Homo sapiens: one gene and its partners. The protein of the gene in region 3 interacts with the protein of the main gene of each other region in a biochemical or structural test. Each region holds a gene or a part of one and is shown on either strand. Other genes may lie near its edges.

Evidence for each region. Proteins that work in one complex are often made in the same cells at the same time.
Region 1: the proteins of OGG1 (region 3) and XRCC1 form a complex in vitro, tested with the Homo sapiens proteins (one study listed by BioGRID).
Region 2: the proteins of OGG1 (region 3) and XPC form a complex in vitro, tested with the Homo sapiens proteins (one study listed by IntAct).

The regions. Positions count from the first base shown.
Region 1 is NC_000019.10:43,568,607-43,572,682, forward strand, and holds part of XRCC1 (DNA repair protein XRCC1), read right to left. Parts: intron 1-4,076. UniProt on the Homo sapiens protein: Scaffold protein involved in DNA single-strand break repair by mediating the assembly of DNA break repair protein complexes. Negatively regulates ADP-ribosyltransferase activity of PARP1 during base-excision repair in order to prevent excessive PARP1 activity.
Region 2 is NC_000003.12:14,144,226-14,147,756, reverse strand, and holds the end of XPC (DNA repair protein complementing XP-C cells), read left to right. Parts: exon of another isoform or gene 1-184; intron 185-377; coding exon 378-467; intron 468-1,597; coding exon 1,598-1,816; 3' UTR 1,817-2,610; downstream 2,611-3,531. UniProt on the Homo sapiens protein: Involved in global genome nucleotide excision repair (GG-NER) by acting as damage sensing and DNA-binding factor component of the XPC complex. Has only a low DNA repair activity by itself which is stimulated by RAD23B and RAD23A.
Region 3 is NC_000003.12:9,752,479-9,755,762, reverse strand, and holds part of OGG1 (N-glycosylase/DNA lyase), read right to left. Parts: intron 1,060-3,284; coding exon 878-1,059; intron 1-877. UniProt on the Homo sapiens protein: DNA repair enzyme that incises DNA at 8-oxoG residues. Excises 7,8-dihydro-8-oxoguanine and 2,6-diamino-4-hydroxy-5-N-methylformamidopyrimidine (FAPY) from damaged DNA. Has a beta-lyase activity that nicks DNA 3' to the lesion.

The sequences.
Region 1 (4,076 bases), on a different chromosome or scaffold from region 3:
GAACAGTGTATATACTATGAATTTTTTAAAAAGGGATGGAGGCGGTAGGTATATATGCTTGTATGTGTACAGAATGACCCAGGAAGACCACCCAAAAAAACTGCTAATGGTGGTTGCATCAGGAGAGAAGAATGAGGGAGCAGGAGTTGGGGAGGGAGCAGGAGTTGGGGAGGGAGCAGGGAGGGATGGAAAGGGTGAGGGGAGATTTTCTTTTTAGTGTATACCCTTTTGCACCTTTTGAATTTTGCACTATATGCATATAATACCCATTCAGAAAGCAAATATAATAAAACCCCAATGGCCAGGTCTTTGTGGCTCTGTCTGTAATCCCTGTAATCCCAGCTACTCAGGAAGCTGCCTCCAAAAAGCTTAAAAAAAAAAAAAAAAATTAGTTGGGTGTGGTGGTGTGCACCTATAGTCCTAGCTACTCAGGAGGCCAAGTTGGGGGATCACCTGAGATCAACAGTTCAAGACCAGCCTTGGCAACATAGTGAGACTCCGTTTAAAAAAGAAAATCAAATATAAATAAATAAAACCATAATAGTTATCTCAATACAACAGAATACTATACAGAAATGACAATAGGCCAGGTGCAGTGGCTCATGTCTGTAATCCCAAGGATTTAAGAAGCTGAGGCAGGAGGAATGCTTGAGTCCAGGAGTTCAAGACCAGCCTAGACAACACAGTGAGACCCCCATCTCTGCAAAAAAAATACAAAAATTAGACTGGTGAACTGGCACATGCCTGTAGTCCCAACTACTGAGGAGGCTGAGGTGGGAGGATCGCTTGAGCCCGGGAGGTCGAGCCTGTAGTGAGCTGAGATGGTGCCACTGCACTCCAGCCTGGGCAACATAGTGAGACCCTGTCTCAAAAAAAAAAAAAAAAGACAATAGGAGTCGAGCACAGTGGCTCATGCCTGTAATCCCAGCACTTTGGGAGGCCAAGGCAGGTGGATCACTAGAGGTCAGGAGTTCGAGACCAGCCTGACCAACATGGTGAAAACCTGTCTCTACTAAATACAAAAAATTAGCCAGGCGTGGTGGTGCATGCCTGTAATCCCAGCTACTTGGGAGGCTGAGGCAAGAGAACCACTTGAACCTGGGAGGCGGAGGTTGCAGTGAGCTGAGATTGTGCCATTGCACTCCAGCCAGAACAACAAGACGAAACTCCGTCTCAGAAAAAAAAAAAATCACAATAAATCATCTACAGCTACACTGAACGACATAGATGAAATGAACAAACATAACAAGGGAAGCCAGATAAGAAAAGTTTATACCACACGATTCCATTTTATATGCAATTCAAAATCAGGCAAAATGAATCTATGCTGTTAACAATCAGGACAGTGGTTACCCTTGCAGGGGTACTGACAGAAAGAACCTGAGGGAACTGCTGGGGGCTAGGCATGTTCTGTGCTGCATCTGGGTGTGGAGTACACAGGGCTGCAGTTTGCAAAGAGTCACTGAGCTGTACTCTTACTTACACCTTCACTTCACTCTATGTATGTTACACATCAAAAAACAGTAAAAACAAATTTAAGACACCACAGTGGCGAACTGAGTGATTAGAAAACCAATAACAATCAAAAATGACCATAGGCCCTATTGCTGATGAACATTTCTTCTAAAAATGACACACCTCCAGTGACACACCAGAGTTATATCTGGGTCTTGTCCAAGCCACCCCTCCAGCCCAGGAGTAGTTAGCAAAGAGGTTGGCATTTCCCTCTGGGAGCAGGTGATGAACAGACAACAGAGCCTGCTGTGGCTACTGCAAACAACCAGGTGTGTGGGGCTGTCATAAGCAGATGGCTAAGCCCCATGTGGTAAGATCGAGATTTTGCATAACAATAATTAGAGGAGAAAATGCAGGGTAGTAGAAGAACCCACAGATGTGGCCAGGTGCAGTGGCTCATGCCTGTAATGCCAGCACTTTGGGAGGCCAAGACAGGAGGACTGCTTGAGCTCAGGAGTCCGAGACCAGGCTGGGCAACATAGTGAGACCCCATCTCTACGAAAAATTTTTAAAATTAGCTGGGCCTGGCGGCACACGCCTGTAGTCCCAGCTATCTGGGAGGCTGAGGTGGGAGGATTGCCTGAGCCCAGGAGGTTGAGGCTACAGTGAGCCATGACTTTGCAACTGCACTCCAACCTGGGCAAGAGAGTGAGACCCTGTCTCAAAACATAACATAACAACCCAGAGATAAGCCTACTGCCTTGGTGGCCAGAAATGTCTGCCTTTATCAGTTACGTCAAAAGAATCAAAATTAGCATTTGATGAATCCAGAGTAACCCCACAAATTAGTCATTGCCAGATGCAATCAGTCATTCCAAAGGGTCTCTGACGTGGAGTAAGTTAACAAAACAACTGCTGCAATGCTGATCTCCCACTCCTGTGTGTGGCCCCTGCAGTTGATTGTCAACATGGAGCCAGCAGGATCCTGTGAAGGCCTAAGGCAGATCCTGTCCCTCCTCTGCTCGGAGCCCTCCGGTGGCTCCTATCTCACACCTGGAGTAAAAGCTCAAGTCCTTTCAATGGCTTTCCAGGCCTTAAGTGGTTTTTTAGGGGTTCCCAGTCCCACCCTGTTACCTCATCTCCTACCTCTCTCCCCCTGGCTGACTCCACCCCAGCCATACTGGCCTCCTTGCTGTCACAAGCCAGCTTCAGAGTCTTTTCCCTAGATACATACATAGCTCATGTTGCTCAAATGTCCCCTTTTCAGGGAGGCCTTCCCGGACCCTACTATTTAAATAAAAATCCTTGCCACTGCTCCAGCTCCAGCTGGGGCACTCTCATTCCCCTTCATTAAGTTCCTCCATAGCACTCATCATCCAACATATGTTTCACTGACTCATTTGTCAGTCTTTCCCTACTAACGTGAAAGCTCCACAAGACTGAATTTCTTTTGTTTTTAAGAGACAGCATCTCATTCTGTTGCCCAGGCTGGAGCGCAATGGTGCGATCATAGCTCACTACAGCCTTGATCTTCCAGGCTCAAGTGATCCTCCCGCCTCAGCCTCTGGAGTAGCTGGGACCACAGGCATAGGCCACCACGCTTGGCAGATTTTTGTATTTTTAGTAGAGATGAAGTTTCCCTGTGTTGCCCAAGCTGGTCTCGAACTGCCAGGCCTTGGCCTCCCAAAGTGCTGGGATTATAGGCGTGAGCTTACTGCACCCCACTGAGAGTGAATATTTTTTGTCTTCTGCTGTGTACTGCTGTATTAAAACAGTGCTTGGCCTACAGAAGGCACTTAATAAATACTTGACTAAATAAATGAGTGAATGAACAAATAAATCCATCATCTACTCCCGAGTCTATAGGTTCTTTCTCTGCACTGACAACTTCCCCACATTCTGTCTTCAGCTCCACATGTGATCCCCAACTGCCTCCTGGATGCCACCCCTAGAATGTCCCAAAGTCACATCAAACCTGGACATCCCAACTGAAACACATCACCTCCCCAAGCTGCTCCCTCTGGGGTTTACCATGTTGGTGACCGCTGCAATACTCCCTCAGTCTCTCCCAGGCCAGAGACAGGTTCTGTCTCTTCTGCCTCCAGTCACTCTGTTTCCACAGCAACTGGGGTAACAGAATGAAATGTGATTTCCCTGGAGTCACTTGATCATAAGAGAGCCCAGTGGAATCATCACCCACTAAGTAATAAAAACACAAATCCCTCCCTCTACACAAACACCTACATGTTGACAGAGCACTTGTGCAGACATTATGTCACCGAATTTTCACAACTCCGGGCTTGGATGTCATTATTCCCAATGGACACATGAGAAAACAGGTTAGAGAAATGAAACAATTTTCTTGAGGTCACCGATTAAGAGGAAGAGCTGGGGGCTTGAATCTAGATCTCAAGACTAAAACTGTCAGCAATCTGTATCTATCACAGTTTAAAAGACTGAGGTCAGGTGCAGTGGCTCATGCCTGTAATCCCAACATTTTGGGAGGCCAAGGTGGGTGGATCACTTAAATTAGCATTTGGTGCTCATTTGCCTTGAACTCCTGAGGTCAGGAGTTCAAGACCAGCCTAGCCAACATGGCAAAACTCGGTCTCTATTATAAA
Region 2 (3,531 bases), 4.4 Mb from region 3:
ATACAGCAGGCTCCTGCCCACCCCGCAGACTATCACTGTCCCTGAGGAGCCTGGGTCCGGGCTCTGGGGTCTACTGCCCCTGCTGCCCACACCTGCCTCTGTCTTGAATTGCCTGTGTCCAGGTTCTGGAAGACCTCACCCACTAAAGATTTTGGAGTCAGTAACGATTAAAAAGTTATCTGTTTTTGTGGCTTTCAGGTATAGTATATCACTTTGTAAATCAGATCAATTTTTTGGAAGTGAGACTTGGTGTGAAGGAGAGGCTATATTCTAAAGTGGTGTATATATCTGTCTTTACATTCACAGTTTCCATCTTAATATTTTTCCTGAAAATGTCAGTGCTTAACACTTTTCTCCCACTTCATTTTTGCCTGCAGAAAAAGGAGAAGCGGGCTCTAGGGAACTGGAAGTTGCTGGCCAAAGGTCTGCTCATCAGGGAGAGGCTGAAGCGTCGCTACGGGCCCAAGGTCAGTGCAGGTTCTTTGCAGAGAAGACAAGCTCAGGGTCAGTTTCTTGGAGATGCAGCTCAGAAAGGCCTGGCCCAGATTCTGCCCCAGCCTCAAGTCAGGGATAGCTTTGTGTTAGGACACCTCAGTCTTCTGTCTCTAAGGCCGCTTGTTTTTACCTTGTTGGGAAAGGTGTCCCTGGAGTGAGGCCTCAGCTGGCTCTTCTGCCCCAAGCCCTGTCCCAGTGTCCCCGTTTCTACTGTCCACATGAGCAATGCCATGGGTCTGATTTGGCGCTGAACACATAGGGAGGGCCAAGTGTCCTGCATTTGGTGCACCCTTCCGCCTTCCAGTGTTCCCAGTGCCTGTGACCATGCTGCAGGCCTGCAGTGGCCCGCTCAGTACCTCTCTCACAGCACCTGCCATGTGCCAGGCCAGGCTTGGACACAGGTGTGAATTTGACATGCAGCCCTCAAGGGGGCCCCTCCCTGGGGCAGATGGACCCTAGGCCCAGTTACATGGTATAGTCAGTGCTGTGTCAGACACAGCAGAAACTGCTCTGGCATGTTTTGTTCCCTCTCTCCAACCCTCTGTGCTGCCTGTTTGCCTTTCAACATTTTTTTGTCACGCTCCTCATTCCAGTCCCTCTGGTGGAGAAAAGCCCTTCATCTGACTTTATGTTCTGACCAGCTCCTTGCCGCCTTCTCCATCCAAACCCTCCCTAGCCATCCCAGCTGGCAGGGAGTGCCGCCTCAGATCTTAGGGCTCCGAGGGCTGAACTGTGCATCTTGCCCGTTCAAGACATCATGTGCTTTGGTCCAGAAATGAGGTAGCAAATGCAAGGCACGAATCACAGGCATCCCCAGATGAGGCAGTGTGCTCCTAGAGGGCAGCTTCCTGCCCAGCCATCATCCTTGTGTTCCCCTGCACTCAGCTCGTAGCAGGTGCTCCAGTGTCTGCTTGGATGCACCCCAGGCTGGGACGGCTCAGTAAGAAGGGTCTGGGCTCTCTCCCTGCCCTGTCCCATGCCCTTGTCCTCCCAGAGTTACACAGCTTAGGGCAGGCTGGGAACTTGCTGCCTCTTCATGGGGCTTCCTGGTATCTGATTACTAACCCTCGCCTGTGTCCTCCCACCACTGCCACCTGTCCAGAGTGAGGCAGCAGCTCCCCACACAGATGCAGGAGGTGGACTCTCTTCTGATGAAGAGGAGGGGACCAGCTCTCAAGCAGAAGCGGCCAGGATACTGGCTGCCTCCTGGCCTCAAAACCGAGAAGATGAAGAAAAGCAGAAGCTGAAGGGTGGGCCCAAGAAGACCAAAAGGGAAAAGAAAGCAGCAGCTTCCCACCTGTTCCCATTTGAGCAGCTGTGAGCTGAGCGCCCACTAGAGGGGCACCCACCAGTTGCTGCTGCCCCACTACAGGCCCCACACCTGCCCTGGGCATGCCCAGCCCCTGGTGGTGGGGGCTTCTCTGCTGAGAAGGCAAACTGAGGCAGCATGCACGGAGGCGGGGTCAGGGGAGACGAGGCCAAGCTGAGGAGGTGCTGCAGGTCCCGTCTGGCTCCAGCCCTTGTCAGATTCACCCAGGGTGAAGCCTTCAAAGCTTTTTGCTACCAAAGCCCACTCACCCTTTGAGCTACAGAACACTTTGCTAGGAGATACTCTTCTGCCTCCTAGACCTGTTCTTTCCATCTTTAGAAACATCAGTTTTTGTATGGAAGCCACCGGGAGATTTCTGGATGGTGGTGCATCCGTGAATGCGCTGATCGTTTCTTCCAGTTAGAGTCTTCATCTGTCCGACAAGTTCACTCGCCTCGGTTGCGGACCTAGGACCATTTCTCTGCAGGCCACTTACCTTCCCCTGAGTCAGGCTTACTAATGCTGCCCTCACTGCCTCTTTGCAGTAGGGGAGAGAGCAGAGAAGTACAGGTCATCTGCTGGGATCTAGTTTTCCAAGTAACATTTTGTGGTGACAGAAGCCTAAAAAAAGCTAAAATCAGGAAAGAAAAGGAAAAATACGAATTGAAAATTAAGGAAATGTTAGTAAAATAGATGAGTGTTAAACTAGATTGTATTCATTACTAGATAAAATGTATAAAGCTCTCTGTACTAAGGAGAAATGACTTTTATAACATTTTGAGAAAATAATAAAGCATTTATCTAAAGATTTGGCTCTATATTTTCTTTCAGATTTTTTTTTTTTTAAGGGGTCTTACTGTCTTGCGCAGGCTGGACTCCTGGGCTTGAGTGGTCTTCCTGAGGGCTTTGCCTCAGCTGGCCCTCACAACCACCGTGTGTGGTGGAAAGGCATTGTTCGGGAAACAGTCCCAGCTCCTCAGGACTGCAGGCACCCACACACCACTGCCGTGCCCAGCTTCTTTCAGATTTAAGTCGGTAATAACACCCAGGTGACAGAGCAATGTATTCATATGTTGAGACAGCATGAAAGAGTCCATTTTGTTTTCATGGAGGCTGGAAATTCATTACATATGGAATTCTTCTGTATTTAGTGAAGAGATGTTAATCTTTGAGAGGAGCCATTAAAAATCGGAGTCACTTTTATCCAAGGGAAACAAACAAAACACTTGAGTTATGACTCATATGTGGCAAGAGGCTGGCTGGAACCTCTTGTTGAGAAACAGACTGGGGTTGCTATGGAAACTGGTCTCACACTTCCTCACCAGAGCTCGGCCCTCCTATAGAGGCAACTTGTTTTCTGTTATTTTTTTTTTTAAATTATTTTTTGAGACAGGGAGGGTTCCACTCTTGCCCAGGCTGGGGTGCAGTGGTGTGATCCCAGCTAGTGGTGTGATCCCAGCTGACTGCAGCCTCAAGCAATCCTCTCAGCCTCCTGAGTAGCTGGGACCATGGGTATGCACCACCACGCTTGTCTTTCTGGGGTTTTGAGATGATGGCATTGCCATGTCTCTGCAGAAATAACTTCTTCAGGCATATGTCAGCTACAAGGAGGCATTATTTAAATGAAACAGTAGGTTCTGAGAAACAGAAGAGTAGGTTTGGGAAAGTTCTCACTCACGTGCTTGTAAAAAATAAAGCAAACTGCTAGCATCAGAGTGGGCAGTTAG
Region 3 (3,284 bases):
AAAGGCTGGGTGCAGTGGCTCACGCCTGTAATCCCAGCACTTTGGGAGGCTGAGGCAGGTGGATCTCGAGGTCAGATTGAGACCATCCTGGCCCAACATGGTGAAACCCCATCTCTACTAAAAATACAAAAATTAGCTGGGTGTGGTGGCGCATGCCTGTAATCCCAGCTAATCTGGAGGCTGAGGCAGGAGAATAGCTTGAAGCCGGGAGGCGGAGGTTGCAGTGAGCCGAGATTGCACCACTGCACTCCAGCCTGGCAACAAAGCAAGACTCCACCTCAAAAAAAAAAAAAAAAAGACAAATGCCTAATTTCCAGTCATCTTATTGCCAGTTAACCCTATTGACATCAAGCAAAAAGTTTTGTCAGTACATGTCATTTTACGAAAGGAACAAAATGTGGCCGGGAGCAGTGGCTCATCCCTGTAATTCCAGCACTTTGGGAGGGCAAAGCAGGAACACTGCTTGAGGGCAAGAGTTTAAGACCAGCCTAGGCAACATTGTTAAGAGCCTATTTCTACCAAAACAAACAAACAAACAAAAAACCGAAAAGAAGAAATATCTTCCCATTTGTCTCCCCCAAGGAAACTATTATTTAGTTTCCTGCAATTTCCTTCTGGAAATTGCTGCATATATATAGCAGCATATATGTGTTGCATCTGAACAAATGGTCTTTCTAGAAATTCATTCAAAGGGCTATATCCTTTCTACTCTTTCTGCACTCTGCTTTTTTCTCTCATAAAACATCTACTTATATCCTTTCTCCTTCCTGCTCTGCCTCCGGAAGCCAAGCCTCCACCCAGCTCCCAGGCTTGGCTCATTTCCTGCTCTCCTCTTAGTGTCAGTAGAGAGGGCAGCTCCTACCCCCTGGGGCCTCACCTTGGTGCCCACTCCAGGCAGGATGCAGAGGGCCTTGTGGGCCTCCTCATATGAGGACTCTCGTAGCTGCTGCAGCCAGGCTAGCCCGCCCTGTTCTTCCAGGATGGCTCGGGCACTGGCACTCACGTAACGGGCACGATAGCCCAGGCCCAGCTTCCTGAGATGAGCCTCCACCTCTGGCCCTGCGGGGAGTGAGGAGGAGGGCAAGCATCAGGCATCTTCAAGTTCTTCCTGTCCTTAGGCTAGTAAGTGAGCTCTCTACCTCACAAGAGTGCTTTTCCTAAGTTCCCCTCCTACCTCCCCACCCTCTATGGGATAGTGGACACTTTTATGTGCAAGGGAAAGGGTTAGGCCTGGGTCCTGTCCCTCTACACATGTTTTCTGAGCACCTGCTATGAATTGGCCCCGGAGCCCAAGTCTAGTCCAGGGACTGAGGACTTGCTTCCCTTGAGGAGCTCCCCAACTGAGTTCCTTAACCTTTCCGAAAGAGTGTTCACACTCATGATCTAAAAAAATAACCACAATATAGCAACAGCTTCTATGATCAAGTGCTAGGCAACATGCTTCAGATATATTATCATGCTTACTTTTCCCAAGAACCCCACTGACAGTACTGCTGTTTTCCCATTTTACATGTGGAGAAAATGAGGGCTTAGAAGAGGTTAACTTACTTAAGAAAGGACATGGGGGAGATAAGATCTTGCACCTAGGTCTGGGACACCAAGACCTGTGCTTTTTCTTTTTTTGACACAGGGTCTTGCTCTGTCACCCAGGCTGGAATGCAGTGGCACAATCTCAGTTCACTACAGCCTTGACCTCCTAAGGCTCAAGCGATCCTCCCACCTCAGCCTCCTGAGTAGCTGAGACTACAGGCTTGTGTCACCATGCCTGGCTAATTTTGTTTATTTTTTGTAGAGATGAGGTCTCACTATGTTGCCCAGGCTGGTCTCAAACTCCTGGGCTCAAGCCATCCTCCCACCTTGGGCTCCCAAAAGTGCTGAAATTACCAGCATGAGCTACCCCACCTGGCTAACGCCGTGCTCTTAACCCATTACACTACACTGCCTCATGATTGCTTTATTCACTCCCAAAGCCCTTCTAGATAGAAACTGTTATTCCCATTCTACAAACAAGCTAAGAGAAGCCGGAAGAGGTGAATGACTTTCTTGAGGCCTTATGACTAACTAAGCCAGGAGCTGAGACTCAAGAACAGGTTTCTTTTTTTTTTTGTTGAGACAGAGTCTCACTCTGTCGCCCAGGCTGGAGTGCAGTGGCACGATCTCGGCTCACTGCAAGCTTCGCCTCCCGGGTTCACGCCATTCTCCTGCCTCAGCCTCCCAAGTAGCTGGGACTACAGGCGCCCACCACCACACCCGGCTAATTTTTTTTGTATTTTTAGTAGAGACGGGGTTTCACCGTATTAGGCAGGATGGTCTTGATCTCCTGACCTCGTGATCCACCCGCCTCGGCCTCCCAAAATGCTGGGATTACGGGTGTGAGCCACCACGCCCGGCCAGGTTTTTTTTTTTTTTTTGAGACGGAGTCTCGCCCTGTCGCCCTGTCGCCCAGGCTGGAGTGCAATGGCATGATCTCAGCTCACTGCAACCTCTGCTTCCCAGGTTCAAATGATTCTCCCGCCTCAGCCTCCTGAGTAGCTGGGATTACAGGTACCTGCCACCACGCCCAGCTAATTTTTAGCAGAGAGCGGGTTTCACCAGGTTGGCCAGTCTGGTCTCAAACTCCCGACCTCAGGTGATCCACCTGCCTCAGCCTCCCAAAGTGTTGGGATTACAGGTGTGAGCCACCGTGCCTGACCCAGGTTTCTTTTTGTTTGTTTTGAGATGGAGTCTCGCTCTGTAACCCAGGCTGGAGTGCTGTGGTCTGATCTTGGTTCACTGGAGCCTCCTGCTCCCGGGTTCAAGCAATTCTCCTGCCTCACCCTCCGGAGTAGCTGGGACAGGTGCCTGCCATCACGCCTGACTAATTTTCGTATTTTTAGTAGAGATGGGGTTTCACCATGTTGGCCAGGCTGGTCTTGAACTCCTGACCTCAGATGATCTGCCTGCCTCGACCTCCCAAAGTGTTGGGATTACAGGCGTGAGCCACCACGCCCGGCCAGGAATGGGTTTCTAAGCACCAAAAACATTCTCCTGTTTTGAGGCAGTCTGTCTCTTTGCTATGCAGTTCCCAAGCACTTGTCCTAGCTTGGTTCTCACATCTGCCAATCGATACACTTGCCTCTGTAAAACATTTGCCTTACAGGGCTACTGTGAAGAACACACGTGTTCTTAGATACAAAACTATCCCATTCACTACAATGATACCAGCTTGAATTTTTTTTTTTTTTTTTTTTTTTGAGACAGAGTCTCGCTCTGTTGCCCAGGCTGGAGACGGGGTTTCACTGTGT